Linked DNA regions of Homo sapiens: region 2 is linked to region 1. Evidence: fine-mapped expression QTL. A gene starts in region 1. The other region holds a variant in brackets. All regions are shown on one strand. Distances are from middle to middle.

Evidence for each region. PIP is the estimated chance that this variant, and not a neighbour inherited with it, causes the effect.
Region 2: its variant is fine-mapped to the expression of KATNIP in whole blood (TOPMed, PIP 0.94).

Annotation. Positions count from the first base shown.
Region 1 is chr16:27,545,658-27,561,431 of GRCh38, reverse strand. It overlaps KATNIP (katanin interacting protein), which reads right to left and starts at 11,288. Exons shown (of 28, transcript NM_015202.5): 1 at 11,255-11,288. The coding sequence starts at 11,261. It overlaps GTF3C1 (general transcription factor IIIC subunit 1), which reads left to right and starts at 11,519. Exons shown (of 37, transcript NM_001520.4): 1 at 11,519-11,762. The coding sequence starts at 11,542. RefSeq lists enhancers at 11,423-11,532, 11,543-11,622.
Region 2 is chr16:27,765,619-27,781,392 of GRCh38, reverse strand. It overlaps KATNIP (katanin interacting protein), which reads right to left. Exons shown (of 28, transcript NM_015202.5): 20 at 14,919-15,084; 21 at 11,375-11,532; 22 at 9,741-9,805; 23 at 8,184-8,294; 24 at 6,309-6,448; 25 at 4,364-4,465; 26 at 3,623-3,783; 27 at 3,424-3,512; 28 at 1,049-2,819. The coding sequence ends at 2,764. Among named protein-coding and RNA genes, the nearest start is that of KATNIP, 220 kb to the right of the region's middle. RefSeq lists enhancers at 6,418-6,918, 9,155-9,920, 10,757-11,956. The variant C/T (reference allele first, on the strand shown) is at 6,569.

The DNA of each region.
Region 1 (15,774 bases):
GAGCAGAGGAAGCAGCTGCGGGGAACAGGAAAGGAAGCTAGGAGCGGGAATAGTATGAGGACTGGGTTGTCTGGGGAAACCATATGTGTCCACTAGAGAAAAAGGACCAGGCCAGGCAAAGTGGCCCACGCCTGTAATCCCAACACTTTGGGAGGCCGATGCAGGTGGATTATCTAAGATCAGGAGTTCAAGACCGGCCTGACCAATATGGTGAAACCCCGTCCCTACTGAAAAAAAAAAAAAAATACAAAAATTAGACAGGCATGGTGGTGGGCGCCTGTAGTCCCAGCTACTTGGGAGGCTAAGACAGGAGAATTGTTTGAACCCAGGAGGCGGAGGTTGCAGTGAGCCAAGATCACACCACTGCACTCCAGCCTGGGTGACACAGCGAGACTCTGTCTTGAAAAAAAAGAAAAAAAAAAGACAAAAAGGATGCAGCCACGGTCCCTGGAAGCTTGGCCTGGAAGCTTGGCTACAAGGCCCTTTCCTTTGTCTACTTTATGGAGAATGTCCAGCAATTCACTAGGGAACAAATCCGTTAATCTCTTTCCTGGTTACAGTGTCAACCCAGCAAACACTCATGGGATCTGCCTGTGCCAGTCCTTGTGCCAGGTGCTGGGCATACAAAGGAAAGAAGTGAGTCTCTACCCTCAAAGAGGGAGAAAAGCATAGAGCTCGTCCCTGTGATACAACACAATGCCTGACTAGCTATGGGGTCCTGCCATGGGGGAGTAGCTAATTCTGCAGGTGGTGCTGGTCACTGCAATTTACAGTGTGGAAGTGACTTGAAAGAAGGGCACAGCTGGCAGGGAACACAGCACAGGCAAGGCAGCGAGGTGCGAAAGAAGACGGTGTACTCCAGAGATGGCCAACCTCCCCAAGTGTCTCGGGCTGGCATTGAAATCTCAGATGCCTGCAAAGGAGGCCAATATGATCAATGGAAGAAGTGAGCACCAGATGACAGGTAACACCAGCCAGAAGGGGTCATCAGCACATGTCCCAGGTCAAGGGGGTGGCCACTGTTCAGTGCTAGAGGACCAGAGCTACGTGACAAGAAAGTGCTGAGGGCCCAAAGCACCCTGTTTATCAAGAGACTGAGAAGTCCAGGTTCTTATGTGAAATTACCTTTTTTTTTTTTTTTTTTTTTTCTGAGACAGAGTCTCACTCTATAGCCCAGGCTGGACTGCAGTGGCGCGATCTCAGCTCACTGCAACCTCTGCCTCCCAGGTTCAAGCGATTCTCCTGCCTCAGCCTCCTGAATAGCTGGGATTACAGGCACCCGCCACCACGCCCGGCTAATTTTTGTATTTTTAGTGGAGACGGGGTTTCACCATGTTGGCCAGGCTAGTCTTGAACTCCTGACCTCGTGATCTGCCCGCCTCAGTCTCCCAAAGTGTTGGGATTGCAGGCGTGAGCCACCACACCTGGATTTTTTATTTATTTATTTTTTTTATACAGAGTCTCGCTCTGTCGCCCAGGCTGGTGTGCAGTGGCGCGATCTAGGCTCACTGCAACCTTTGCCTCCTGGATTCAAATGATTCTCCCACCTCAGTCTCCCAGGAAGCTGGGATTATAGGCAGGTGCCACCATGCCTGGCTAATTTCTGTATTTTTACTAGAGACGGGGTTTCACCATGTTGGCCAGGCTGTTCTCAAACTTCTGACCTCAAGTGATCCGCCTGCCTCGGCCTCCCAAAGTGCTGAGATTATAGGTATGAGCCACCATGACCTTACTATTTTTTTTTTTTTTTTGAGACAGGGTCTTGCTCTGTTGCCCAGGCTAGAGTGCAGTGGCATGATCACAGCTCACTGTAGTCTCAACCTCCTGGGCTAAGGTGATCCCACCTCAGCCTCCCGAGTAGCTGAAACCACAGGCATGTGTCAACATGCCCAAATAATTTTTAACAATTTTTTGTAGAGGTGGGGTCTCACCGTGTTGCCCAGGCTGATCTCAAACTCCTGGGCTCAACTGATCCTCCTGCCTCAGCCTCCCAAAGTGCTAGGACTACAGGCATGAGCCACCATGCCTGGCCTGAAATCACTATTTTTGAATATGGAAAAACATATTGATAGACACTGTACAGCGCAGTGTAAAACCTCTGGGTGTGAGAGCAGGTAGGCAAGTGTCTAAAAAGATGAGACTGGAGGGGAGCTAATTCCCCAGAGAAATTCTATACTTCAAGGTGATATGATCCATAGGGCAATTGTTAAAGCTGCAAAGCCCCATGGGACATCAGTAGTCACACTTTCTTACTTTTACATAAAGTGCTCTGCAAACAGTTTCAAGTTCTTCCTTGCAACCAACCACATTGCTCTGCATTAGCCTACTCCCATTTGGAAAGAGAGAAGCAGTCATGGGACCAGATGCTGAGGGAGCTGGGAATGTAGTCAAAACGGGTACCTTTCAAAATGTATATTATTCCATCAGCCCAGTGGCCAGTTCTTCCCCACAGACTCACTCTCCAGGTGTGAGAACCTGGCCACACACTGGCAGTAACAAGGCTGAAATGGGCCTTCCATAACATACTACCAAGTGTAGACCTTATTCGACTGAGTCCTGGCTCTGCTACCTACTAGGTGTGTGGTATAAAACAGACACAATCACAGTATCCCATTGAGCTGTCTCAGGAATCAAATCAGATCTGCCACGGCAACAGTCAGCAAACGTTTCCTGTACAGGCCCAGATAGTAAATATTTTTGGCCCGTGGGCCACATAAGTCTCTTTTACAACTACTCAACTCTGCAAGAAAACAGCCATGGACTATATGTATGTGAAAGGGTGCTGCTGCATTCCAATAAAACTTTATTTACAATAGCAGGCAGTGGGCCACACTGCTTTGGGAAAGGGGAAGACCTCTACAAATATTATCTTCTAAGGACTCCCATGTTGAAATGTAGTCATCTGTTTATGTCTGCTTTCTCACCATACTATGAAGTTTCTAAAGGCAGATAATATATTCCCTTTTTTTCAGATTAAAACAAAAAGAAACTGGGCATGGTGACTCATGCCTGTAATCCCAGCATTTTGGGAGGCCAAGGCAGGCAGATCACTTGAGGTCAGGAGTTCGAAACCAGCCTGGCCAACATATGAAACCCCATCCCTACTAAAAATACAAAAATTAGCCAGGTGTGGTGGCACACACCTGTAATCCCAGCTACTTAGGAGGCTGAGGCAGGAGAATCACTGGAACCCAGGAGGCAGAGGCTGTAGTGAGCTGAGATCGCACCACTGCACTCCAGCCTGGGTGAGAGAACAAGACTCTATCTAAAAACAAAAAAACAAACAAAAAGAATAAGTATAGTCCAGTATGGCATACAAGGAAGTCCACAGGAGTTTTCACAACTGTACAAGTTAATACTAAAGTAGAATTCTAAGTACAAATGCTGACAGGCCTAGGAGTGACAGACACAATGAGAGAAGCCAGTCATTAGACAGGCCCACCTCCCTCTTAAAGGGCAAAGTCTCCACTTAACTCGGGTGGTGGGACAATTGTTGCCATGCAGAATTCTGATTTGGTGTTAACAGACTTTATTGATATTTTCAAGAAAATACCACAATCAGGTATTTATAAGAAATCTGCTCATTTTTCAATGTTGACAACTAATTCAAAAATTTAAAAAACAAAACATTATGAGCCAAATAAACATGCATGTGGGCTGTTTCAGCCCACTTGTGCAAGCTCTGATATAAAGAATTCATTTCCAGCCAGGCATAGTGGCTCATGCCTGTAATCTTAGCAACTTGGGAGGCCAAGGTGGGAGGATCACTTGAGCTCAGGAGATGGAGACCAGCCTGGACAACATAGCAAGACCCCCATCTCCACAAAAAATAAAAAATTAGCTGGGCATGGTGGCACACACCTGTAGTCCCAGCTACTTGGACAGCTGACATGGGACGATCGCTTGAGCCAGGAGATGGACGCACCAGTGAGTTATCTCACCATTGCACTCCAGCCTGGGCAACAGAGCAAGACTCTGTCTCAAAAAAAAAAAAAAAAAAATCCACACCTGTAACCGTAGCACTTTAGGAGGCCAAGGGGTAGGGTTGGATCACCTAAGGTCAGGAGTTCGAGACCAGCCTGGGCAACATGGTGAAACCCCGTCTGTACTAAAAATGCAAAAATTAGTTGGGCGTGGTGGCATGTGCCTGTAATCCCAGCTACCCAGGAGGCTGAGGCAGCAGAATCACTGGAACTCGGGAGGCGGAGGATGCAGTAAGCCAAGATCGCGCCACTGTACTCCAGCCTGGGCTACAAAGTGAGACTCCACCTCAAAAAAAAAAAAAAAAATCAACTTCACAGAAAAATGTCAAGAATAGTACAATGAATTCCCATATCGCCTTCACCTGGATTCAATCTTACTCATTTTGGCATCTCTGAATTCCAATGCACGGAAGGCACTGAAATGTTGAATCATGGAATGAATCTCATAAGGAAAAATAAGCAAAACATTATGGGCCGACTTCCTATAAGTTAAAGTGACAGGAGGAACGAACTCTGAAAAAATCTGAGAGAAAAGAAACTAATCAGATAGAAGGATTGGAACAAGAAGAAAACAGAACAGACACAAAGAGTCTATGGGATGTATGTTTATTTCACCTGCTGAATGCTTGCTTTGTTTTATTGCATTTGATTGTTATTTTATTATTTTTTTTGCTGGGTTTAAGTAGTAAGAGAAACAGACAAATCACCAAGAAGCCAGGTAAATACCACACAAGGACAGGAGAGACCAGCTAAACCGATGGTGTACTCTCAGCAAAACCTTCCTAATTCAACCATCACCTGTTTGCAGTCTGGGATTATTTGGACAAGTGAGGCTAAATATCATCTTGGCATTATTAATTATTTGAGAAAGTTTGCTAAGCAAATGAACAGTATAAACAAGGGAAATGTTGAATATTTGCTCTAGGGGAGCAGTGAAAAGCAAATGAACAACTTCCAAATCCTTTCTAATTATATCAATGTGCTGAACTTTTGTCTAATTATTATGTTCCTTGAAAATGAAATAGAATTTTTTTTCCTAAACCATTTCATATTTTTAAAGTACTGGGGAAAATTCAACTTTAACAGAAAGGCGAACATTTTCATAGGCAGAAAACACACACTGCCAATGTACCTTCATGGAATAAAAAATGTCAAACATTGGATTTTCTCTTAAGCAAAGAGTGTGCTAATTACAAAAGTTATCATCTGCTAGAGAGCTTCATCAGCACGCTTCCCTCTTCTGTCAACTGTGTGGAATAAGTCTGCCTATTTGCAGATAATGATAACAACAGCTACTATATAGGAACTTTTTTTTTTTTTTTGAGACAGAGTCTCACTCACTGGCCCAGGCTAGAGTGCGGTGGTGCAATCTCAGCTCACTGCAACCTCCGCCTCCCAGGTTCAAGCAATTCTCTGCCTCAGCCTCCCGAGTATCTGGGATTACAGGCACCCGCCACCACACCTGGCTAATTTTTGTATTTTTAGTAGAGACAGGATTTCACCATCTTGGCCAGGCTGGTCTTGAACTCCTGACCTCGTGATCCACCCATCTCAGCCTCCCAAAGTCAGGCATGAGCCACCGCGCCTGGCTGTAGGAACTTTTTTTTTTTTTGAGACGGAGTTTCGCTCTTGTTGCCCAGGCTGGAGTGCAATGGCGCAATCTCGGCTCACCACAACCTCTGCCTCCCAGATTCAAGCGATTCTCCTGCCTCAGCCCCCCAAGTGGCTGGGATTACAGGCATGCACCATCACACCCAGCTAATTTTGCATTTTTTTAGTAGAGACAGGGTTTCTCCATGTTGGTCAGGCTGGTCTCGAACTTCTGATCTCAGGTGATCTGCCTGCCTCGGCCTTCCAAAGTACTGGGATTACAGGCGTGAGCCACCGCGCCCAGCCAGGAACATTTTTTTATATGCCAGACTTGATGCATTGTTTCATTGAAGCCACAAAACAAGGTAGGCTTCATTATCATGTCCATTTTACTGACAGGAAAACCAAGGCTCAGAGAGGTCAAAGTGTACAGCAGAGATTCAAATCCAGGGCTATCTGGCCCCCAAACCTAAGGACATTACACTGCATCACAGAAACAGATAGGACCTGCCCAAAGTCAAAATCAAAAGGCCAGGGAAAGGGTTGTGAAAAGCTATGGTGATTAAGACATGCCGAATAAACTAAATTACAGTCCAGTTTGGAGGGCATCTGCTAGACATTTAAGCTTTTGTGAACGTAGGAAGTAAACATCTTTCTAATAAGGCCAGGCTTGGCTTACCTAGTTAGTTAGAATCACAATAAGGTATGCTTCACTTTATCCAATAAATAGGTATGTGCCTATAAAATTATGTATAAATCAGGGCCAGGTGCGGTGGCTCATGGCTATAATCCCAGCACTTTGGGAGGCTGAGGCAGGTGGATAACCTGAGGTCAGGAGTTCGAGACCAGCCTGACCAACATGGTGAAACCCCATCTCTACTAACAAAAAACAAAAAAGTTAGCCAGGCGTGGTGGCGTGCACCTGTAATCCCAGCTACTCAGGAGGCTGAGGCAAGAGAATCGCTTGAACCTGGGAGGCAGAGGTTGCAGTGAGCCAAGATCACGCCACTGTACTACAGCCTGGGTGACAGGGCGAGACTCTGTCTCAAAAAAAAAAAAAAAAAAAAAAGTGTAAATCAAAGTTTAAAAAATCAGAACAGAAAATGGGATTCTTTGGAGGTCAAATATGACCCTAGGGTAAACACTTCTGAGAATAAATTTTTCCTTTTGGGGGCCAATCTGAAAATGAACATACCCCTCTACTAGGCTACAATAACGTCCTAAGACTGCAAGTACAGAGATGCTCATTAGAAGGCACAAAGCAGCCTTCCTGAAAATGGACTGTAGCAATGTTTCTCAAAGGTGCAGATCCTGGGAGAAGGAGGGGTCCACAAAGACAAAAGTATTTTAATCATAATTTGAAGAGTATTTCACTGTGTTGAATTTTTTTTCTTTTGAGACAGTCTCACTCTGTTGCCCAGGCTGCAATACAGTGGCATGATCTTGGCTCACTGCAACCTCTGCCTCCTGGGTTCAAGCGATTCTCTTGCCTCAGCCTCCCCCAAGTAGCTGGGACCACAGTTATGTGCCACCATGCCCAGCTAATTTTTGTATTTTTAGTAGAGACAGGGTTTCACCATGTTGGCCAGGCTAGTCTCAAACTCCCGACCTCAGGTGATCGCCCACCTTGGCCTCTCAAAGTGCTGGGATTACAGGCGTGAGCCACCCCATCTGGCTGTGTTGACATTTGTACTTATGACACAAAGCAATGGTGGGTAAAACTGCTTGCAGTCTGAATCAAGGCAATGTTACCACAATGTACTAGAAACCTTCCCTCCTTCCTTCCTCCCTCCCTTCTTCCATCCCTCCCTTCTTTCCTCCTTCCTTTCTCTCTCCTCTCCCTCCCTTCTTTCCTTCCTTCCTTTCTCTCTCCTCTCTCCCCCCACCCCACCCCCTGCTCTCTCTCTCTCTAGACAAGGTCTTTTTGCCCAGGCTGGAGTGCAGTGGCACAGTCATGGCTCACTGTAGCCTCAACCTCCTAAGCTCAACTGATCCTGAGTGGCTGGGACTACAGGCACGAGCCACTATACCTGTCTAATTTTTTACTTTTTACAGAGATGGGGTCTCACTAAGTTGCCCAGGCTGGTCTTGACCTCCTGGGCTCAAGTGATCCCCACACCTCAGTCTCCTTAGCAGCTAGAACCACAGGTGCATGCTACCATGCCTGACTATTATTTATTTATTTATTTATTTTATTTATTTATTTAGTAGAGATGGAGTCTCACTATGTTGACGAAGCTGGTCTTGAATTTCTGGGCTGAAGAGATCCTCTTGTCTTGGCCTCCCAAAGCGGTGGGACTATAGGCGTGAGCCACTGAACCCAACCATCAGGACATTCTTAAATAAAAATAATTGTTTGTTTGTTTTAAATGTGAGTACATGGCAGTAAATAAAATAATAGACAAATTTTGGTTATTCAGTCTTGGGAATTTGGCAGAAATTTTCTCAAATATGAAATAAGTGAGTCTGTCACTTCAAGGAAACAGCTGACAATATTTGCTGCCAATGTTAAAATTCAAGCTGTCAAGTGAAAACAAGTTGAAAACTTGTTTCCATTACCTTGAGTTTGATAGTTTCCTAATACTTAAACTCCTTTTTAAAATGAAATAGGTGGTGATATTAACAAATGTGATTTTTTAAATACCGTATAATGGCATCTGAAAGGTCAACGTTTAGATTTGCATAACTCACTGAACCAACATTTTCTAAACGACCAATGGCTGATGTTATAAAACCATATATGGGTAAAGCAGCCAATGAAAGGGCAAGATAGACCAATGGATTTTAATGTAACACAGTATAAAAGTTCACCTATAAGGCTTCAGATGACACACTGTGACTAACATTTAAGAAACTGCCACTTGTGGCCTGGCATGGTTCTTCATGCCTGTAATCCCAGCACTTTGGGAGGCCAAGGCGGGCGGATCACCTGAGGTTGGCAGTTTGAGACCAGCCTGACCAACATAGAGAAACCCCATCTCTACTAAAAGTACAAAATTAGCTGAGCGTGGTGGCACATGCCTGTAATCCCAGCTACTTGGGAGGCTGAGGCAGGAGAATCGCTTGAACCCGGGAGGCGGAGGTTGCGGTGAGCCGAGATCAGGCCATTGCACTCCAGCCTGGGCAACGACGGCAAAACTCCCGTCTCAAAAAAAAAAAAAAAAAAAAAAAACTGCCACTTGCAGGCCAGGCATGGTGGCTCACGTCTGTAATCCCAGCACTTTGGGAAATGGAGGCAGGCTGATCACCTGAGGTCAGGAGTTTGCGACCAGCTGGCCAACATGGGGAAACCCCATGTCTACTAAAAATAAAAAAAATTAGCTGGGCATGGTGGTTCACACCTGTGATCCCAGCTACTCGGGAGGTTGAGGCAGGAGAATCGCTTGAACCCAGCAGGCAGAGGTTGCAGTGAGCTGAGATCGTGCCACTGCACTCCAGCCTGGGCGACAGTGAGACTTTTTCTCAAAAAAAAAAAAAAAAAGAAAAAAGAAACTGGCATTTGCTAAATTTTGTATAGTATGAAAGGAGAGTGTCTACAGTTATCTGAAAAGGCAATTAAAATGTTTCTCTCTGCTCCAATTATATATTTGTATGAGGCCAAATTTTCTTCATACACACCAGCCAAAACAGCATAACAAAAAACAGTTTGAATCCTGAAGCAGAAATGAGAGTAGTTTTTTCTATTTCTATTGAATAAACTTGAAAAAACATAAAATAATGCTACTCTTCCTATTAATTTTTTGGAGGCAAATGTAATTGTTTTCCATTAAAAATATTATTTATGTTCAGAAGTAATGGGTTTATTGTTGTTGGAGTTTTTTTGAGACAGGGTCTAGCTATGTTGCCCAGGCTGGTCTTGAACTCCTGAGCTCAAGCAATCCACCCACTTCAGCCTCCCAAACTGCTGGGATCACAGGTGTGAGGCACTGCACATGGCCAATTATTATTATGATTATTATGAGCCACTGCACCTGGCCAATTATTATTATTATTATTGGGTTTTTTTGAGACAGAGTCTCGCCCTGTTGCCCAGGCTGGAGTGCAGTGGCAAGATCTCGGCTTCAAATGATTCTCCTGCCTCAGCCTTCCAAGTAGCTGGGATTACAGACATGTGTCACCACGTCCGGCTAAGTTTTAGTAGAGACAAGGTTTCACCATGTTGGCCAGGCTGGTCTCGAACTCCTGACCTCAAGTGATCCACCTGCCTTGGCCTTCCAGAGTGCTAGGATTACAGGCACGAGTCCATGCCCGGCCCAATTTTTATTATTTTTAAAGGAACTAATTAATGGACATCTTAAGATTTTCCCAGTTTAAATCTTCGATATGGTAAATATCATAAATATAAATAAACAAAGCTCTTTGAGGTAAGAGCATACAGGGGTCCCAAGGCTTAAAAGGTTTGAGGACTGATGTTCTATAGCAACATTACATTGACCTTTCCAGAAGGCAAAATGGTAAAGCACATTTTATAGTACCTCTAAAGTACAAAGGGAAAAGATATATTTTAAGCATATGACAGAATGTTCAATTAAAAACATTTTCTCCACACTACATTCAGTGAATATAAAAAGAATGTGGATTCCCCAGGAACAAATTCCCGAGAAGTGAGGGACAGTGCTGTAATTAGAAAAATGATCTGGACTCTAGCCCAGACCCTACCAGTCTCTCTAGACTTTAGTCTTCCCATCTGCAAAGTGAGATATCAGAATAGCCTATTTTCCATTTGCTTCCAATTGTCAATACCATGACTCTAATCAGGGATCCCTAAATGGGGGCCCACAAGCTGTCTCTGGCCTTCAGAGTGACTGGCCAACCCTGTTTTTGAGAAGTACCCCAAGAGGACAATCAGCTGGTGCTTGGTGAGCAGCTTTCCTTTCAGGTGAGGAATTGATTTTCAGTTACAGCCTCAATCCGGCTCACTAGACTCTCCTCTGCAGACATCTGCATTTACAACCTCTGGAATAAAGGGACCCTCAAAACCGGTCCAAATCTCAAGCTCCATAATTCAGCTCCAGAGACAGGGTGTCTGGGTTTCTCACTCACTCTGCTACATGCTGGTTGTTTGACTTTGGGCAAGTTCCTTAACACCTCTGAGCCTCAGTTTCATCATCTGTAAAATGGAACAACGCTGAACTCAAAAGGCTGGTATGAAGCTTAGCGAGGTGTTGCCCAAGAGTACTTACAGAGTTCTTGGTACTGGAAAGCACTTTGTTAAAGGGAGCTATTATTATTAACGCCAAGGCACAGAAAGGGAGTATTTCCTAAACTCCCTTCACCCCCCACACCAATTCCCTTTCCCAGCACCTGACGATTGCACTCCCACGATCAAGCTTGTTTTCATATCAACTCCCAAATCCGACAGTTCCACATCCCAACATTCACAAGACCCTCCTCAGACCTCTACTTCTCCTTCCCCACCCTACATCCCTTCACTGAGCTCCCGGCCAGTACCGGTTTCCTTCACGACCACAGCCGAGCAGAATGGTCACAGCACTGACCACTCCCCCAGGCTCTCCTCCGCGTTCCAGACCACTAAGCCTCCCTATCCCTCATTTCGGAGACCCCCTTGGGTCAGGAAGTGGTGGTCCAGGGGTTCATGGCCTAGGATTCTGCCCAAAGCGCGGTCGGGAGGGATGGGAGAATAACAGCCCGACCTCCCGGAGGGGCCCACAGACACTCACCGTCCATCCCTAGAGGCGGCGGTTCCGGGAGCTCGAACCGGAAGCGGCCTCTACACTGTTTGCAGTTCCCCTGGTTACTGCGGGGCCCCGGACCAATGACGGTGGAGCTCCACTTACTGAGCCCGCCCCCGGGGAGTGACGTCATGCCGGCGCGCTGGAACTCCTCCTCCGAACCCTGGGTCTGACCCACCTCCCCGGGCCCCGGATCGTTGTGCGCAGGCGCGATGGACCAAGGCCCTTGGCGGTGCGTTGCGCATGCGCCCCGGGCGCCGCCGACTGAAGTAGCAATGGACGCGCTGGAGTCGTTGTTGGACGAAGTCGCTCTGGAGGGGCTCGATGGCCTGTGTCTGCCAGCGCTGTGGAGCCGGCTGGAGACGCGAGTGCCGCCCTTCCCGCTGCCTTTGGAACCCTGCACGCAGGAGTTTCTCTGGCGGGCCCTCGCCACGCACCCGGGCATCAGCTTCTATGAGGAGCCTCGGGAGCGACCCGACCTACAGCTCCAGGACCGGTCAGCGGGCGGCCTGGCCTGGCGGGCGGGCGGGCGGGCGCAGGGCCCGGGGGCTGATGGAGCTGGGGGCAGGGCGGGGGAATGGAGTGGGGCTGTGCAAGTACCGGAGGCCTGTTGATTGAGTTGGGGCACGGCGGTAAGGCTAATCTGGGGTCCCTCAGGCCTGGCAGGGCCCTGGAGTCCGATGGAGTTGGCGGGGGGAGGGGGAGAATCTAGTGATGTCCCGTTTTGTCCCTGTGTGTGTTTTGGGGTAATGGCGAACAGGATTGGGGATATTCTTCAGGCTTAAAAGAATGTTTCCTTTACATTGGAGGATAGGATTAGAGCAGGAAAGACACTTTAGAGCCAGACTGGAGACTCCTGAGATCAACAGACCCTCATGGTATATTCATTCGGTGCAGATAGCCTAGGGCAACTCGAGATCTGCGTATCAGGACAATTAGCGATAATGCTAAAAGCTGACATTTATCAGGGACTTCATGGGTGAGGTGCTGTTCTTTTTTTTCTTTTTTGAGATAGAGTCTCTCTCTGTGGCCCAGGCTGGAGTGCAGTGGCGCGATCTTGGCTCACTGCAACCTCCGTCCGCCTCCCAGGTTCAAGCGATTCTCGTGCCTCAGCCTCCTGAGTAACTGGGATTACAGGCATGTTCCACCACGCCCGGCTAATTTTTGCATTTTTAGTAGGTATGGGGTGTCATCATGTTGGCCAGGCTGGTCGCGAACTCCTGACCTCAGACAATCCGCACCTCTCGGCCTCCCAAAGTGCTGTGATTACAGGCGTGAGCCACGGCGCCCGGCCACATTGCTGTTCTAAGAATCTATTCTAGAAGCTTTAGGAGCTTAAACTCACTTGATCCTCACTTGATTAAACTCCGTTAAACAGGAGATTAAATTCACTTGATCCTCACCTATGAGGTAGGTGCTGTTATCGTCCTCATTTTACAGAGGAAGACACTGAGTCACAGAGAGGGATTATGTAACCTAAGGTTCTGGGGGCAATAAGTGACTAAGAATTGATTTGAACCCAGGCTATTTTCAGCGTCTGTGCTCTTAAGCCATATTGTGAGGGTCAGGGGAGGTTCCAAGAGGTAATAATGTCCAAGACAGGCCGGGTGCAGCAGCTCATGCCTGCAATCCCAGTACTTTGGGAGGCTGAGGTGGATGGGTCACAAGGTCGGCAGTTCAAGACCCGCCTGACCAACGTGGTGAAACCCTATCTCTACTAAAAATACAAAAATTAGCCTGGCGTGGTGGCGCATGCCTGTATCCCAGCTACTCAGGAGGCTGAGGCAGGAGAATCACTTGAACCTGGGAGACAGAGGTTTCAGTGAGCTGAGATTCAGCCATTGCACTCCAGCCTGGGTGACAGAGTGAGACTCTGTCTCAAAAATAAAATAAAATAATGTTCGAGACAAAACTTAAAGGTTGGATTTAGGCAGCCAGTTGGCAAAGAGGACTGTTGGACAGAGAACAGCAAATGTGAAGTAAGTGGCTGAAGTGTGGAATTGGAGGTAGGGAATGAGGAATAGCTAGGACTGTGCTAAGATCCTTAATACAACATGTTATTTAATTTTTACAGAAACCTTAGGAGATGGGTAATATTCTCCCCATTTTCCTGAAGAGAAAATCGAGGCCCTGAGGGGTCAAGTGGCATGCTAAAAGTCAACTAGCAAGGGAAGAACCCAGACTTTGAGGAAGGTCTGAGTTCAGATTCCAGCCAAATTGGACTGGAATCAAGTCTTTTAACCTACTTAAAGAGTTTATCAGCCTGTAATCCCAGCACTTTGAGAGGCAGAGGTGGGCGGATAACTTGAGGTCAGGAGTTCAAGACCAGTCCAGCCAACATGGTGAAACCCCATGTCTACTAAAAATACAAAAATTAGCTGGGCGTGGTGGTAGACGCCTGAAATCCCAGCTAGGTGGAGGCTGCAGTGAGCCGAGATTGTGCCACTGCACTCCAGCCTGGGTGACAGAGGGAGAATCCATCTCAAAAAAAAAGCTTATCCTTTATCAAAAGGACAGTGAGAAGTCACTGAAGAGAGGGTCAGACTAGGGGCAAAGAGTGAAGTTGAGAGATTTTTAGTAATCTAGTCATGGTCTGGCTTACCATGGTGGGCGTGGGGATGAAGAGCACAGGCAGTCAAGACATAGTAGGCTGCTGTTTGGGCACCTGAGCGAACCCTGATTCTCATCTCTGAGGCTGGGAACACGGAAGAACAGCGTGGGGGTTGAGTCTGGGGGAGGTGGGGACTTTGCTGAAGAGACATGTGACACATTTAGCTTCAGGTTCTTTTGAGTTGTCCAAGTGAAGAGTCTTAATTAGTAAACATCTGGCTTCGTGGGAGTGAAAGCAGGCCAGAGGGAGGGACTGAGCTAGACATCTGTGAGTCATTCCTAGCAGCTGGTAATTAAAGCAGCTGGCTAAGATCAGCCCTAAGAGAGAGTGTAGTGTGGTTGGAGGTCTTGAGATATAGCTCTGCAGTGCACCTACATTTCAAGGCTGGATGGAGGGTGAGGGACTTTCAAAAGAAGACTGAGGCGGTGTGGCTGGAGAGGTAGAGGACAGTCAGGTCAGAGTGGTGTTCTGGAAGTTTGGGAGGAGACAGGATCATTTAAGAACGGAGGGTTGGGCTGGGTGTGGTGAATCATGCCTGTAATCCCAGCACTTTGGGAGGCCGAGGCAGGTGGATCATTTGGCCAACATCGTGAAACCCTCTCTCTACTAAAAATACAAAAATTAGCTGGGTGTGGTGGCAGGTGCCTGTGATCCCAGCTACTAGGGAGGCTGAGGCAGGAGAATCGCTTGAACCCAGAAGGTAGAGGTTGCAGTGAGCCGAGATTGCGCCACTGCACTCCAGCCTGGGTGACAAGATCAAAACTCAAGTCTTAAAAAAAAGGAATGGAGGGTTAAATGGTGCAGATAACACAGAGGGGGCAAGGAAGGAAAGGGCTGAAACATGTACATAGGATTTAGCCGCAATTAGACTAGTGTAGGATATGAGTGAGATTTCAAAATAAAACTCGACAAGCAGCCAGGCAAGGTGGCTCACACCTGTAATCCTAGCACTTTGCAAGGCTGAAGTGGGCAGATTACTTGAGCCCGGTAGTTCAAGACCAATCTGGGCAACATAGTGAGGGGAAAAAAAATTATATATATATATATGTATGTATTTTTTTTTTTTTTCAAAAAAAAAAAAACTTGACAAGCTTGGCTAACTGCATGAAAGAAGCACAAATGAAAAATGTCTCCATGGTGTTGTAAGAGGCACATGGAAGAAAGCGGTAGTAAGAGGGGAAAGAAGGGACTTAATTGGAGCTGGGGAGAGGTAATCATATTTGGAATGGGAGGCATTTAATAGACAAGTGAAGACATTGGATCTGTATTTGGAGAAAAAGGACTGAGGATTCAAAGGTGAGACTTGTTAACATGCAGGCGGTAATGCAAACCATGAAAATGGGTTAGGATATTAGAGAGATAACTAAGGAGAGATGGAAAGATGAGATCTTAAAGGGAGGAAAGCTTTGGCCACTTGTGGTGGCTCCCACCTGTAATCTCAGCACTTTGGGAAGCTGAGGCGGGTGGATCACCGAGGTCAGGAGTTCGAGACCACCCTGACCAACATGGTGAACCGTCATCTCTACTAAAAATACAAAATTAGCCGGGCGTGGTGGCACACCCCTATAATCCCAGCTCCTTGGGAGGCTCAGGCAGGAGAATTGCTTGAACCTGGGAAGTGGAGGTTGCAGTGAGCCAAGATCATGCCATTGGACTCTAGCCTGGGCAACAAGAGCAAAACTCCATCTCAAAAAAGCGGAGGAAAGCCTTGAATCATTTCGTCCAACTTGGTGGTTTGGAGACTGAGTACCAGATTTGGAGGGAAACAAAAGCCCATGACTTGGCCAATAAGGAGGTTTAGGTCCCAGCACCCAGCTTCTGGAATAGTCTGGGGAGTCCTGGAAAGGTCTGCGTTCTGTGGGATAGAAAGGCAGGAACCTGCTTGTCAAGATTATCT
Region 2 (15,774 bases), 220 kb before region 1:
CTCCCTGACATCACTTGTCTGGCCCCTGAATAACAGGACTCCACCCCAGGGCTCTGGCAGGGGCTGGAGAGGCTCAGCAGAGCTGAGAGGCTGGGACACCCCTGCCGGCCTCCCACTCTCACAGAGGGAATGCTGGAAGGTCTGGGCTGCCCTCGAGGGTCTCCAGGGCTGGCCCAGAGATCCTTCCACCAAAAGGAGGGAGGGCGACTGCTTTCCAACACTAGCATGGCTGGGCACAGCCAGGCCCGTCTCTTAGGAAATCAGAGGGAACAGGGGGCATGGAGCAGGCCGGCCGGAGCCCCTGCTGTTTTCCCTCTATGCTTGGGGCTGGGCCTCTCCTGGCTGGACAGAGGGGGCTCTCTCCTCTGACCCACACAGTGAAGCAAAGTAGGGTTTCTAAAGGACTCTCCTACCTGCTGCCAGTGCTATTGCCGGTGCCTGAACTGCAGTGTGACCCTCCTCAACTGAGCCCTCTTTCCACTCAAGGGCTGCTTTATCCAGAAGCCACAAGCTGCCAACACTCACCCCTGGAGGCAGCAGGGGCATGGGGGTGGGCAGGGAGGAGGTCCAGGAACTGGGGGTCTGGGGGCCACCATTCCAGGATCCACACATGGTGAAGGGAAACCCCAGGGCCAAAGACCCAAGTGTTGTCACCCCCACCTCAACTCTCCAGGGGCCCTCTCAGGATTTGTGCATTGGCTAATAGCTTCCAAAGCTGTGTGTCCCAGGAAAGCTGCACAACCTCTCTGTGTCTCAGCTCCCTTATCTGTAAAGTGAGGATAATAATAGTGCCCACCCCAAAGGGTTGTGTTACGTGGATTAAACAAGTTAGAGCCAGGCATGTAATCACCACTCTCTATGGATGAGCTACTGTTGTCTGCTCATACGGCAGGACAATCTCATTGAGTAGTCAGGGCGAGATCATGACCCCATCTGCAGCTCAGTGAGGGCTTCTCTGTGTCACTCAGCTCCTGGAGGCAGCATGGACTCCCCATCTGACCCCAAATCCGGTGACTCGGACTATATTCTTAATAACATCTTTTATTAATTTTGCAAGAGGAAAAAAATAGAAATTTATTTTAGAGTTAAAGCTTGTACAGCCTTTTTTTCCCCTCCTAAATTGCACAGTACATACGATTATTATAAACATCAGCTGCGGTTCTGGGAGTGAGCTTGTGTCGTGTTAGTGCCATCTCCCTGACAAATCTGACCTGTACCCACATCTCAGCTGGGAAGGAGTAGCTGGGCCTCCCTTTAATGCAGCGGCACTGGTTTGGGTCACAAGAGCTGGTTTGATCAACCCCTGACTCCCCCTGGCGGGAGGTGCTCGTCACATCTGGGAGCTGAGCAGAGGTGCCGGGGGCTTGGAAGCTGGAGAAATGATGGATCTTTCTCCAGGAGAAACAATTCTTATCTTCACATCAGCCCCGTGCTCCAAATGAAAAGCGCGTTTGCATAGCTGCTCGAGCCCAGGCTGCTAAGCTCATGAAGTATTTGCCGGGGCTCTCGGTTGCATAGGAACGTACCTCGAGTACAGTACTGCGGCGGGCCGGGCTGGGCGCCAGAAAAACAACGGATTAATATTTGCAACGAGAAATTACCCACTACTGGGAAACCAATTAGGTCCCTGATCCGAGCTTGTTACATCGATGCATATAGATGCGTTCTGGGCTTCACTCGGCTGGGGGTGCAAGGCACATTTCCAACTCGCTGGGAAGTGGCTGAAGGGGGAGAAGGGGTGGGGGCCTGGGAAAGGAGCACCTCACTGCCTGCCTCCAAGGGCACAGGGGCAGAGACAGAAAGCAGCCACATCAGTGAGCACAGCCGTGATCAGACCAGGAGGGACATGTGGCAGAGAGTGCAGGGAGGGCCTGCTCAAGGGTGAGGGGAGATGGGGGATTGTCCTCAGTGTTCCCCAACACCTGCATCCAGAGGGCACTGGGGTGAGTTCTTCTGGCCCTCTGGGGTCTGGAGCTGCCAGCCTGCTGGCCACCCACCCACCCTTCCTGGCCCGGCAGCAGCACGCAGATGATACCCTGGCCTGCCAGAGTGGGCCCAGCTCTTGCCAAGGTGGATGGCGGGTGGCCCAGCTGACTTCCTTCCCTCTGCAGGATGCACACAGCCTTGGCCAATCCCTTATCAGGCCCGATGAGAGGAGAGAGGCCCCTATACCGGGATGAGAGAGGGTCTTGTGGACCCCTGTAACCAGGAAACTACCCCAACCTCTCAGCCAGCTCCACCAGTCCCCAAATGAGACAAGGATGCGCAGGGGATGGGGGGTGTTGGCCGCTGAAGCTCAGGTTTCTGAAGGCAGTCTCCCTGGGCAGTGCCCTGCTTACTGGAGTTGCGGGGTAGGGTCTGGTCTCCCACTGTCCTGCTCAGCCATTCTCTGGGCCCTCTGAGGCTGGATGGGATGCCTCCCCACCCCGTCATTGTCCTGTTCTGAGTCAGGGTCAGCCCAGGCCCTAGTGGTCATGGGCCCTGCTTTGCTGGGTCTCACAGCAGAGGCATGAAGGCGGGTGTCCTGGGCTCCCTGTGGCCAACCCAGAACTGCAGGGGATCTCTTTGCCCTGCAGCCACAGCCATCTGTCACTCTGGTAGTATCCAGGGCTGTCCTCCCGAGTCCCCTCTTCCCAGCGGGCTCCCCTCAACACTGTGGTTCGCTTCCAGCTCCTGGGACTGAGGGTGAGGGACGCAGGCACTGAGTGGGGCTGCTGACGGAGCCCACCATAGTGGGAGGACCAGCTCTCCCTCCTTCACCAGTCAGCAGCGCCGTCGTCTCGTCTCCTTCTCGCTGATGCAGGTTTTGGGACGTAAGGCTGTCATGACAGGGAACAGAGGGACCAGAGTTACTAAGTCTCAAACCCTGGAGGGGTGCCCCACACTCCCCAGTGAAATCCAGCAGCCTGGGTTGCCATTCAAGGCCCTTGGAAAAGTCCCTGCTCTCGGGGCGCCTGGCACGCTGGCCCCTTCCCTCCGCCTGGAGCAGGCTCTGCCACAACACCCCTCTCAGCCTTTGCCCAGGCTGCCTGGCACACTCCTCACATCCTTTAGGATCCAGCTCAAACATCACCTCCTCCGGGAAGCCCTCACCTTGGGCATCCTCTATTGGTTTCCCACGGCCCGGGGCAAACCCCTTTAACATGGTGCTCTGTCCCTGACTGCTTCCCCACTCTGTGCCCACGACACTTAGATTCAGGAAGCTCCACTGTGTTACAGGTGCCTGCAAGAAGATGGAAGCATGTTGCTCCCCTGGTTCCATCCTCTTCAGTCCCTCCCTAGGCCTTTGGGCAGGCTCCTGGGCAGAGGAGAGCGGTCTAGGGGCAGGCAGGGGTGAGGGTGGGGGTGCAAGGCCACCAGCTCCTTCTATATTCAGACCGAGCTCCCAAGGCACAATGCTCTGGGCAGAGAAACGCCACTGACCTGGGTCAACAACGCTCTGCTTCCGTTTCGCGTTGGTAATGATTTGGTTTTCATTCATCATCTGGACATCTTGATCCTCGGCCTGATTACTGAGGGTAGGAAGGAAACACAAGATTCGATCAGGCTCCTGGCCGTGTGTCCCAGCCATCCATCCTCCTTAGGGCTGGTGGGGAGGCCATGGGGCCGGCTGGGGCCCTACCTGATGGTGGTGTGTTTCTCCTGGTGGCGGATGTCCCTGTCCTCGGTGAAGAGGATGGTGTGGTAGGGCACGGTGGGCTCACATGTGGGCAGGATGCCCCCCACCAGGTGGCTCACCATGGCCAGGATCCCATTGTACACAAGCAGGTCGTCCACCAGGAGCTGCAGGGACACGGGGCAGGACTCATGGGTCCCCCTCGTCCCTCCCACGTTGACCTTGGGCAGAACGCGTTACTGCTCTGAGCCAAGGCTTTCTCCTCGGGAAGACGGGGCTGTCAGGAACAAGCGCCTACTGTGTGCTGTGTCTGCCTTGTGATTTCAGATCTTCACAACCATTGGGAAAGGCAGGAGCTATCAGCATGCATTGCAGATGAGGAAATTGAGGCCCGAGGGGCTTTAATACCATTAGCACAAGTGGCAGAGCTGGAGGCAAACTTGGGTCTCTGGTATCCAGGGTCCCTGTTTTCCCCATCCCAGGGTCACCGCCCCAAACCAGTGGGATTCTAGAGGAAAAGACGAAAGAAAACCCACTTTCTATTTGCTCAGGGTGACACTGAAATCACTGCCAGCAGGTTCTGAATTCATGGTTGGGTGGGAAATTCGCCTGCATCTGACGACCAGGCATTTGTGTTGAGGGTTGCAACAGAGAGAAGTAAATCAAACTGCGACAAATGATAATTGCCGGCGGCCTAATTACCAACGAGCATAATTATCTCAAAAAACTCAGCTAATAAGTACTTACGCCAAACTCCTTCACCCCTCGATGGGGTGTTTTCGCATAATTCCACAGTTTGATCATTGACACGGTGGTAGGCAGATCGAAAATCACATAAACCCGGTTCACCTGTCAGAGAGCGGCACTAATTAAAACAGGCATGTTTGGAAACAGAGGCGCTTGGCTGGGCTGGGGGTGCCAGGCGTGGGCTGGGGTGAGCGGTGGTGCCCAAGGCAGCGCCTGCCACGTGGGCCAGCCTGGAGTTCCGCCCCCTTTCATCTCCTCGAAGCCCATCTTGAGTCAGGTCACGTGTGGCTGCATTTGCAACAAACCGCTGAGCTGGCTTTTGGAGGGCCTGTGTTCTTGGGCCTGTCGGAGCCCTCATTTAAATGCCAGTGGAGGATTGGGAACATCCTCGGCCCTCCCCCACGTCCCCTCAGGTCAGGCCCAGAAATAGTCTAGAGCCCCATGAGCTAAAGGGACAGTCCCCAACTCGGGTTGAGCACCAGCCATGGTGATCAGCATCTGACCCTGTCTGTCCTTTCCCCAAACCATCACTGAGAAGCAACGCCAAGGTGCTGCTGGACAATGTCCAGGGCGTGTCTGTGAACCTCCGCTGGGGGAGTAAAAAGGGGGCTGTCTAGATCGGGGCAGAATCCAGTGGGAAAAGTGGGACGGAGCAGCCTCAAACAGCCCTCCCTCTCCCCACCCCCAACCAAAGCTCTCAGATATTAGGGGAGGCCCTCCCTTGCAAGACAGAATCAAGAAATAAGCATTCCACACTGGCCACAGACTGCAGGCTCAGTCCTGCCCCAGGCCCTGGTCCCCAGCCTGTGACCATCCTCAGAATATGCCAAGAGGGAGTGCGGCTGCTCGGGTAGGGCCAGCCTCCTGGCTGGACCATGGAAACAATAAAGGTCAGGGTGAGGGTCTCCAAACTCAGTTGCCTGTGAGGCTCAAGCAGATACAGATGTTGGAGTCCAGCCGCGAGAGCAACAGCTGAAGTCGCCGCACCCCAAAAGGCCTTCCAGTGCTAGACAATGGAAAATACCCGCTGGCCGTCAGTGGGTGGCCTGAGTCTCAGGGAGGACAGAGCTCTGTTGCCCCCTCTGCAATGGGGCAGGGGAAGCTGAGGACGCTCAATAGGGGGGGTCTAATTTTAGGGTGGCCTTTGGAAAACTTCCGTCATAGAATTGCTGATGCTGTACCTTCCTGTGTTTTCAGAGAAAAAGGTGCCCCCGATCCCCCACTCAGTCCCATGGCATGGACAAGGGACACATCCCTAGTCATATGGCTGCCAAGAACCCGCTGTGCATCTCTACCAGGCACCTGGCCCTGGGCTGAGAGGCTGCAGGGGGGCTGACCACCCCGTCCATGCCCTCTCCCCTTCCTCTCCACCACAACCAACCACGTCTTCTCACCATGAGGCCTCAGAGCTAAAAGCTAAGCAGGACCCAGTGCAAGATTTGAGATCTGGGAAACTGAGTCAGTTGGTCGGAAGAGCTGACCAGGCCAATTTAGGGCCAGAAGGAGGGCAGGGCGGCCGTACTGGGGTCATCTACCTGGTGATGTAGGAAGGGGCAGAAACCGTGAGTGTGCGGAGAGCTGGGTGGGGAGGAAGAGGGCACAGTGGCTGCAAAGCCAGGCAGAGCAGAGAACCAGAGAGGGCTGCCTGCAGGGACCCAGGACGCCCAAGCCCTCAGGCAGTTGTGCTGGGGTTCCTGGCTTCAGATTCCCATGGGACCCCTTTCGCCCCAGGTGTCCACTTATAAAAGAGAAAGAACTGCTGGCCTGGAAGAGCTGACCCCATCAGGCAAGTTAGCAAAGACCTAAACCTTTCTGACAGCTCCCAAGCATCTTGGCTTGAGATTAACTTGACCTGGAAGAAAGACGTGTCACTGAGACCAGGGAAAGAAAGTCCCCCTGCCCGCCTGAGGGCCAGGAGCTGCGGTGGCCGCTGCCGGGAACCCACCAGGCCCGGCAGGATGGGAGCCAGCCACATGTGCCGGCCATCACTGGTGTCGTTCACTTGGTCGATGAGCTTGTCTGGGGTGCGGACGTCCCCGCCCACACCCTCCAGGGAGTTCACGCTGTCGGGGAAGGCCGCAATATCTGAGGAGACGTCTAAGTTGCCATAACCCAAATCTGTGTGCTCGGGGCTGCCAGCCACCCTCAGGCTGATGGCGTGGCTCGGGGGACTCTGGGGCTGGCAGGGCTGATGCTTTGGGCAGC[C/T]GCAGCAGTGACAGCTGAATTGGACGTGTCCTGGGGAAACGGGGAGTGCCGGGCCCAAGGGGAGCAGGTGTGTCTGGAGAGGTGGTCAGTTTCAAGTAGAGAGAGAAGGAAACCACACAGAAGGCCAGCTGAAAAAGAGACGTTGCAGGGAACTGCCAGAGCTGGGGACGTAAAATGTTGCTGCTGCTTGAGAGGGTGGAGGGCAAGCTCTGCGGAGGTTTTCTTTTGGAAGGGAATGGGGCGGTGGCTGGATTCTACCCTGGCATGTGAGTATCATGCCGAGCCTCTCTTCCTGGTCAGTGTGGAAGGACCTCGGAGCAGCTGGACCCAGCTAATGTGATCTGCAGAACCCAGCTTCTAGCTCTGCCTCTGCCATTATGACCTGTGAGGGCGTGGGCAAGTCACAGGTCAACCCTGGGCCTGTTTTCCCATCTGTAAAATGGGTATAAAAACCTCCAGCTCCCAGGATGGATGTGAGGATCTCAGAGTGCACCAGATGTGAGCACTTTGGTAAAATCAATGAAACTTTATAGCTTCGAGGAGTCGCTAATAATGATCTAAAACATCAAGAATCATTCATCCCAGCTGAGGAGGGTGGTGGCACCAGGGGAAGGCAGAAAAGGATCCAACTGGAAGCCAGGGACCCCAAACAGATGCAAGGCAGGCTTTGGGGTTCGACTTGCCCTGGTATTTCCCTAACTGTGGTGGGCCAGGGATCACAGATTCAAGATCCGAGGGGGCCAGGCAGGTTACATGAAAGAGGCAGGATAGCCTACTGCTTGGTCAAGAGCTGGTGTCTGGACACTCACTGGCTGTGTGACATTAGGCAAGTTACTCAATCTCTCTGTGTCTCAGGCTCCTCATCTGTAAAATGGGGATAACAGCAGCAATCACCTCACAAGATTGTTGTGAGGGCAGATGAGGTAGCACAGAGTGAGCCCTGAGAAAATATTAGCAGTGAGTTTCGGGGCCTGGTAGATAACAATGGGAGGAGTGGGGGGCTAAGGTAGACCAGAAGGATATGCTTGGGGAGAAATGGCAACAGATAACCAGGTCCAGCCATTGTCACTATGCATAATCAAGGGCCTGTGTTGCCAATTTCTCAGGGGAAACCAGAGATCAGGGTTTTCATGTGAAACCTCGTGATTTCTAAAAATATTAGCAACTCATTTTAAAATGCACTGGGCTAACAGTCTGCAAATTCTGGTGTGGGCATACTATGCACAAAGGGTTCCATACTTAAGAAATTCAGGACACACTGAGTTGAACACAGTGCAACAGGCTTCTCCCTGCAGACCTTGTCAGAGCCTTTGGAACTCCAAAGTATCTGTGGTTCTCCGAGAAGGGGGCGCTATAGTTGGCAGCCTCTCTCAATTCACTGGACCACAGGACTCTGGTTTGTGGAATTCCTGCTCCTGATGTCTTAGCAGGCAGGGCTGGGAGCTGCTCTCTGCTGCCCGTCCCCAAGGGTCAGCATCTGACTATAAGCAAAGCCCCCTGGGCTCTGGTTCCTAGAGGGCCATTTCCCTCTGCACACAAGGCTTCTGCCCCGTTCCCGACCCTCCCATGCTCCCTTCAGTCTGGGTGGAGCCCACTCCTGTCCTACAAAGGATACTGTTTTCCGACAAGGGGATTTTTTCTCCTCGCTCGTCATACAGCTCCAGGCCGGTGAGGCCGATGTAGTAGGGGTCGCCCCAGCTGGTGAGAAGCTGAAACTGGAAAATGACTGGGACACTTTATTAAGGAAAAGAAGGCTTAATTTTTTTTTTTCAGAATATAGTAAAACAATGGCAAAGATAAGAGGAATTGTTTTGGGTTTATGTTGATGAATGAGAGAAAAACATTTTTCTCTTATTGCAACTAGAGCCTATCAAAATATAGGTAGCATCACATTTTCTTAAATTGCATGTGTGTGCATGTGTGTGTGTGTGTGCATGTGAGTGTTCATGTGTGTGTATGCATGCATGTGTGCACGTGTGCGTGTGCCCGTGTGTGTGTGTATTAGGAATTCAAAGCCTTCCTCTAGGCCCCAGGAGACAGGACGGGAGGAGAGGGTGCTCTCCAGGGAGCAGGCAGGATGGGGAAACATCTGTGTCACAAACTGATTGTATGGTATTGAACAAAATGCTCCAGTTTCCCTGGTTGTGAAATGACAAGAACAGAGTACCTGCAACCTCCTCCATCCCTTTCAAGTAAACAGGAGGCTAAGAAGGGGACACATAAACCTCACAGCGCCAGGGGCCATGGGCCGGGGCAAGGAGACCACCATTGCTGCTGAAGTCCCACGTGCAGAGCTGGGCATCAAGCCTTTCCTCAGCCCTGTGCTCTGCTCACTCCCCGCACTCCCAGGAGCAGGCCGGGTGGCTCTCAGATGATGGCATAGCCAGAGACAGTGCTTCCAGAACTGGCTGGCTAGAGAGCGGGCCTTAGAGCCAGGCTGCCTGGGTTCACCTCCCCTGGGCCCTACCCCTTCCCACCTGTGCAGCCTTGGGCAAATTACTGAGCCTCTCTGTGCCTCAGTTTTCCTAGCTGTGAAATGGGAATGATAGTAGTACCAGAGTGCTGGGCTCTGCTGCCTGGGCTAAAGTACAGTGGTGCAATCAGAGCTCACTGCAGCCTCGAACTCCTGGGCTCAAAAGGTCCTCCCACCTCAGCCTCCAAGTAGCTTGGACTATGGGCATGTACCACCAGCTAATTTATTTATTTTTTTTTAAGATATGGAGTCTCATTATGTTGCCCAGGCTAGTCTCAAACTCCTGGCCCCAAGCAATCCAACCTCCTTGGTCTCCTAAAGCGCTGGGATTACAGGTGTGAGCTATTGTGCCTGGATTGCCAAGTTATTTCTATCTTCACCTCCTCCCTGGCTGGTTCCAGGACACCCCCCTTCCCCAGTCCAGCCACTGGGGTCAGTGCCAGCTTCTCTAGCCCCTCCCAGCTGGAGTCCTGGGTGCTGCCCCCTCCAGCCTCAGCAGGAACTAGCCTGGCTGCCCCAGTTCCAGCAGCTCCTAGTGGCCCTGAGGACCCAGGAGGCCTCCTATCCTCTGCCTTGGTTTCCTTGCATGGAGTTCCAGCTGCCTCATCTGTGGCCGCCTGAAACCCTGGCTGGGCAGTTGCGGCCCAGGCGCTGCCTCGGGGCCCAGAATGTGCTGGTGGGGCGGGAGGAGAAGGATACAGCCACAGGGCATCAGCGGTGCCTCGTAGTCCATGCTTGCACACTCCAGGCTTCTCATGTCCAGCCTGAAAAAGCACAAAACAGCACCATGAAGAAGCTCACGACGGCCCAGAATCACCAGCCAGTTACCCCCTAGGTAACAGCCTTTGAAGAAACATGGCAGTTTAGCGTTCCCTAGGATGCAGCAGGGAAAAGAGAGATGAGGCCCCTGCTCGTGTGGAGTTCCCGCTCTAGATGACAGTCATTGCCAATGCTGGCAGGATGCTGTGCCAGGGAGGCACGGGGCTCAGGGCTTTCCTGAAATGGACTCTTTTATTCCTCAACACAACCCTAGGAGGTGGGTATTTTTAGATGCTTGGGATGTGGATGAGGAAACTGGAACACGGAGAAGTGAGGTCACTTGCTCAAGGCCATGCAGCTGGTAGTGGCAGAACCGGGATGGGACGTGAGGTTGCCTGGTACCACTGCCCCCTTTCTTAACCAACCCCCTCTATGTCTTTAAACACAAGGAGGGTCCACGCTGTGCCGACAGCCAGGACGGGGTGACAGGGCAGAGGGACTGGGTGGGGCAGGCTGCCTCAGGGAGTGCTCTGGGAAGGCCTCCAGGAGGAGGCAGCCTTGGGAAGTGCCAGAGCTGAACCTTCCACGCAGAGGAGCAGCAGAGCAAAGGCCCAAGGTGGGAAGTCACTGGGCTGCTGGTGTTTGCCCCAGAAAGCGGCCAGAGGGCTGGAGTCTGGGGCAGGATGGGGAGAGGGAAGTGAGAGGAGGCTGGAAGGCAGGCACAGCCCTGATGGCTTTGGCTTCATGATCTTCAGCACCTGGCTCCACCAGCCAGAGCCTCAGTTCCCACATCTGTAAAACGGGCATCATACTGGCTAGGTCAAAGGGTGGCTGGAAGGATTTCCCAAAGGACACATCAAAGTGTTCACACAGCTGGCCCTCGGGAAGGATCCTCTCCTCCACGGCCCTCCTGACGGGGCCCCTCTCCCTGGTCCGCTGTCAGTGCCCTCCAGCCCTAGCCTGGTTCTCTTCCATTTCAAGGGCAATGTTACAATTAAATGACTTCCTAGTGACCAGCCCAGCCAGCCAACCCCGCTACAGTGCAGGGAAACTCATTTTGTTTCAAGAGCTTGGCCTCTGGCGTTTGGACATCAGGGGGTTTCAATGAGTAAACTTAACGTGGCATTTACAAATCGTTATGAACTTAATGCAGCTGAGACTGGGGCCGAGAAATCCCAGTGAATCCATGAAATATTAAGCTCTATTTTTCTCCTTGAATCTTTCTAAATCAGGAACACAGAAACGGGAGAAGGAAGGCCCTTCCCCAAACTGGCCGGCAGGCATTTCTGGAATGGAGGCAGGCTGTAGCCTCTTTTCTCAGCAGGAAACGCAATGAAGCATTTAAAATCTTCAGCACTCCAGACTGTGAAAAACCCAAATGTCCCCAGACAAGGTAAGTCCATTCCACAGGCTTCCGGTGAGGCTTGGCTGAGCTTTAGAAAATGACTAAGTTGAAAAGCAATGCGTTTGATCATCGTTTCAAAACCCTTTCGGAATGTACATCAGAGCAACTTGCAAAGCAAGCGGGCCCAGGGGCCGGGAGGGGCTGTGTGTGGCGCCCACTTTCTCCTCACCTCCTGGCCGGCTGGGGCAGCAGCTGAGCCCGTAGGTAGTCCACGAAGAGGATTTCTTGAGCAAAATCAAAGTGGCAGTTGCCTGGCCCCTTCCGGATGAGAAAGCCCTCTGGCGGGGAGACGCACAGGCCATCCAGGGAGACGTGGACAATCTTGGCCTGGCAAACAAAAGAAATAACATGACTGAAGGGAGGCAGGCCATGTGGGGACAGAAGCGGTGCTGACGTGACCGGAGCTGCTGGCAGCTGTGCTCACCATGGGGAGCCTTTCGCAGAGCCACCTGACCGAGGTCCATTTCCCATATCAGGTGCTGTGTGGGCGCTGGGCAGGTAGCAGAGGACAAGACAGGCGAGCCCCCTGCTACAGCGGACACTGGTCCACGGCTTTCAGGGGTGGCACGTGACTTGGCCAAGGCCTCGCCCACCTCAACAGCTGCAGCGGCCTGGGGCGGCATGAGATGGAGGTCAAGGGCATGGACTCAGGCGCTTCCATGTGCACCACTAGTAGCTGTGTATGTTACCTACCTTCCCTATGCCTCAATTTCCTCATCTGTTAAATGGGCACGGTCATGAGTTAACCTACGTAAAGTGCCCTAAACAGAGCCTGGCACAAACTGTATACTTCGTGAATGTTAGCCTCTATCACTCCTTTTTCAACCCCTGGCTCACACATCAATACCCCTCTGGGAGCTCTCCCTTAGGACAGGACAGGCCTCTTTCTGATCTTCCTTCTCATGGCACTGAGCTCATCCTTTTTGGGCCTGTATGCCTAGCAGCATCCCAGTGGCTTCTGGGTCTCTCTTATGGCAGAGGTTCTGGCTGGACCACCTCTCTGTCTGCCTCAGGGCCTGGAACACAGCAGATGCTTTCTAAGAGCTTGCAGGATTCACGTGGATTTGAGCCAACATCTCTCCCTGTTCTAGCCAGAGTTCTCCAGCCAGATGGCCAGGTTCTACTGGTCAGTTTCAAAGTCCTAATGGTAGAGTCTGAGGCGGCCCAGCCACCACCTGCTCTATGGGCAGGGAGGGGCAACAGCCATCACTCTCTGATTTCAGATTTTGGAGCCTGGTTCTCCTCGACACCTTAGCCCACATTCGTGGTCAGCAACATGGGTGCAGCTGTTGATCCAACTGGTGCCTTTCCTCTAGGGAGAGGCAGAGGCGCTCCTCCTGCAGAAAGGAAGGGAGGAAGGGTCCCTGACCTGGCTCTCATGTGCCCCTGGGGCCCCTCGTTCCTTCAGCATTTTGGGAGCCCCTCTATGTCAGTTACAGGACAAGTAAACCTGAAGTGTGGTGCTACCTGGCTTCGGGCGTGGCTGTCACTAGAACTTGGTCCCTGTCCTCCATCTCTCCATCTGCTTTCCTCAAGGGGGATTCCTACCTGGGCCCCCTGAGCTGAACTTGAAACATGGCCGGGCCCATCAGCATGACTCCTGGGGTTTTGCTGGCTTGCCTGGAAAGGGGAGCTTTCTCTTCTGCTGGGCTTGGAGCTAGCAGGACATAAGCCTGGAGCTGCCAGAGTGTGCCCTGGACAGAGTCGCCCAAAAGTAGATTCAGTGATGGCAAAGCAGAGGCCCAGGAAGCCCCTGTCCATCCTCCAGGGCCAACACCTCCTCCAGGAAGCATCCCTGACTTCCCTGGGCAGAGCTGGCCACATGTCCTCTGCTCATTCCCTTCGAGGTGACCTCTATCACCACCTCCATCTTATAGGGAAGGAAGCTAAACTTCACAGGGACTAAGTGATTTGCCCGAGGGCCACTGAAGGGATTTGAAGCCCCAAGTCCAGGAGTCCAGGGCCCTGGCTTCCAACCACATGTCAGGGACCCCTGGTGCTCGGGAAGGCCTTTTGGGGTGTGGGATCTGAGTCAAAGCACCCATTTCACTGCAGTGGGGGTCTCCCATCTCAGGCCACGTGCCCATTCCCCCCCACCCCCACCTCATCCCACTGTAGCCATTGTCTGGCTGGTGGGGCCCAGACCTGTGAGATGGGAACTCAGCCCAACATCCCCAGATGGTGAATTCAGGTCACAGAAGCTCTACCAGACAGACTGTGATTTGCTCAAGGGAATTTTAAGGCCCAAAGGCACAACTTGAGGCAGAAGGCTGTTTTTTAATGTCAATATATCTGACTTCTTCAATGTGTTGAACCCAGGGGAGCGTTCATAGAGACACAGGGCGGCATTGGGAGGGTCTGTGACCGGCCTGCTCAGAGGAGCATGCTGGCTAAGCTCCTGCTACACGGGGAGGGCCAGGGGCTGCCGATCCTGCTGTAAGATGTGACACAATTCTTTTTTTCATTTTTCTTTCTTTGAGATGGTGTCTTGCTCTGTCACCCAGGCTAGAGTGCAATGATGAGATCATAGCTCACTGCAGCCTCAACCTGGGCTCAAGAGATCCTCCTGCCTTAGCCTCCTGAATGGCTGGGACTACAGGTGTGTGCCACTAAGCCTGCCTATTTTTTTGGTAGAGATGGGGGTCTCTCTGTATTGCCCAGGCTGGTCTAGAACTCCTGGGCTCAAGCCATCCTCCAACTTTAGCCTCCCAAAGTACTGGGATTACAGGCGTGAGCCTCTACACCTGGTCTGTGATACAATTCCTAAGGCCCTAGAATAAATTCCATGGTGGGTATATGGTGGGGAGCCCAGATCTGGGGATCACCTGAGGCTGAGTCCTGGCTTTGTCAACTGTTACCTGGCAACGGTGATGCCAATCCGCCGTGGCAGGTGTTATTCCCTCCTCATTTTATAGATGAGGAGACAGGCCCAGGGAAGGCAGGCCACGTGCCAGAGGTTACGCAGCTGGTTGGGTCCAAGCTGAGACTCAGACTCAGGCCCTCCTGATAGTAGGGCCCTAGCTGAATTGCTACCTTTCGGTGGCCTCATTGTCACTTTTACATGACTGGAGGGCACCCATTCAGTCACCTGAGGCCAGAAAAGCCAGAGAAAAGGGCTCTTCCGAGGCTCTCTTCTTCATTCCCACCGAGGCTGAGTCTCAGAAGCGCCCCCCTGCTGCTTCTCACTCAGCAAAACATCACACGGAAATCACAATGTGGGCTCCAGGTCTGGCTGGCCAAGGTGGAGACTCCAGCTGTGTGGCCTTGGATGGGCAAGTGAACCTTCCTGGACCTCAGTTTTAGACCCTAAGAAATGGGGGTAATCACACCCACCTCCCATTGGCTGGAATGAGAATCCAGTGAAACAATGAATGCCCGTGAAGCCCTCAGCAGAGGCCTGGCCACCCGAGCACTCAAGGGACTTGAGGGACAAAACTGACCATGGCAAGCTGGGGCCTGGACCTGCCTAGGACCCCCCAGCACCAGGAGAAACGGTGCTGTGCAGTTCCCTGGAAATGCCCTGCGCTCTTTAGCCTGCATTTGCCATTTGCAGAAGGAAACAGCAGCTCTCTCTCTCCCTGGACATAACGCCCCCAGCTCCGTTTGGAAAATTCTGGAGGATTTATGCTCCTCTCTGGCTGCCACGCCAGCCATTCATCAAGGTGCTGCTTCCCTGATGCTGGACTGAGCACGGCCACTGCTCCCCAGCTTACCCCGCGATAGGTGTCCTCGGGAGATTTATTGTAGTTCCAGAAGCGCAGGCCTGCGATGCTTTCGGCCCTGTCCAGGCGGATCGTGACCACATGGTCCAGCCCCGGCGAGAAGGGGATCAGCCACATATGCTCATCCTCCATGGTGATGTTGGTGCCATCAATTAACCTGCAGCAATGGGGACGGAGCGGCAGGGGGGCGGCTCAGTGGGCACAGGAGGCATCACAGTGGGGCCCCCACCCCCTCGGCCCCAAGTACGTCCCCACTGCCTGGCACTAGCCTGGCTGTGTCAGGCTTGTTAAGGGGAGGTGTGACTGCTGAGAACAACAGTCAGAAGTCGTCTCTCATCTATGAAATGAGACATTTTTTAAAAGAAAAAAAAAAGGCTATGCTGTTAAAGGTGCAGAAAAGCAATCATCAGGGTTTTTGTTTTTTTTTTAAAAGGGAAAATGAACCATTTTTCAGAATCCTTTAGCCCAGTGATCCCATTTCTGGGATTTTCTTCCCCAGAAGGAAAATGTATTCAATATATGGGAAAGGCTATCCGAACCAAGATGCTCATTACAGTGTTATTTACAATAGCTTAAAAAAGGATAACAACCTAAAAGATCTCAAAATCAGGAAATGGTTAAGTAAATTTCACAGGGGTTAAGGTGCCATCATGAGGACACTGCAGTCACATGGAGGAGGCAGGACACTGATTATAAAGCTGAGAAATGAGGACAAGGACCAGGAGAGAGTGTGCAAAAGTGAAAAACATAATTGGGTCAGAGGGTATGGAGGTGAGTATTTTTCTCAAGTTTCCAAACTTTCTGTAAATTTGCTGTGTTGGCTTTACAGCATAGTTGGAAAGAAGTG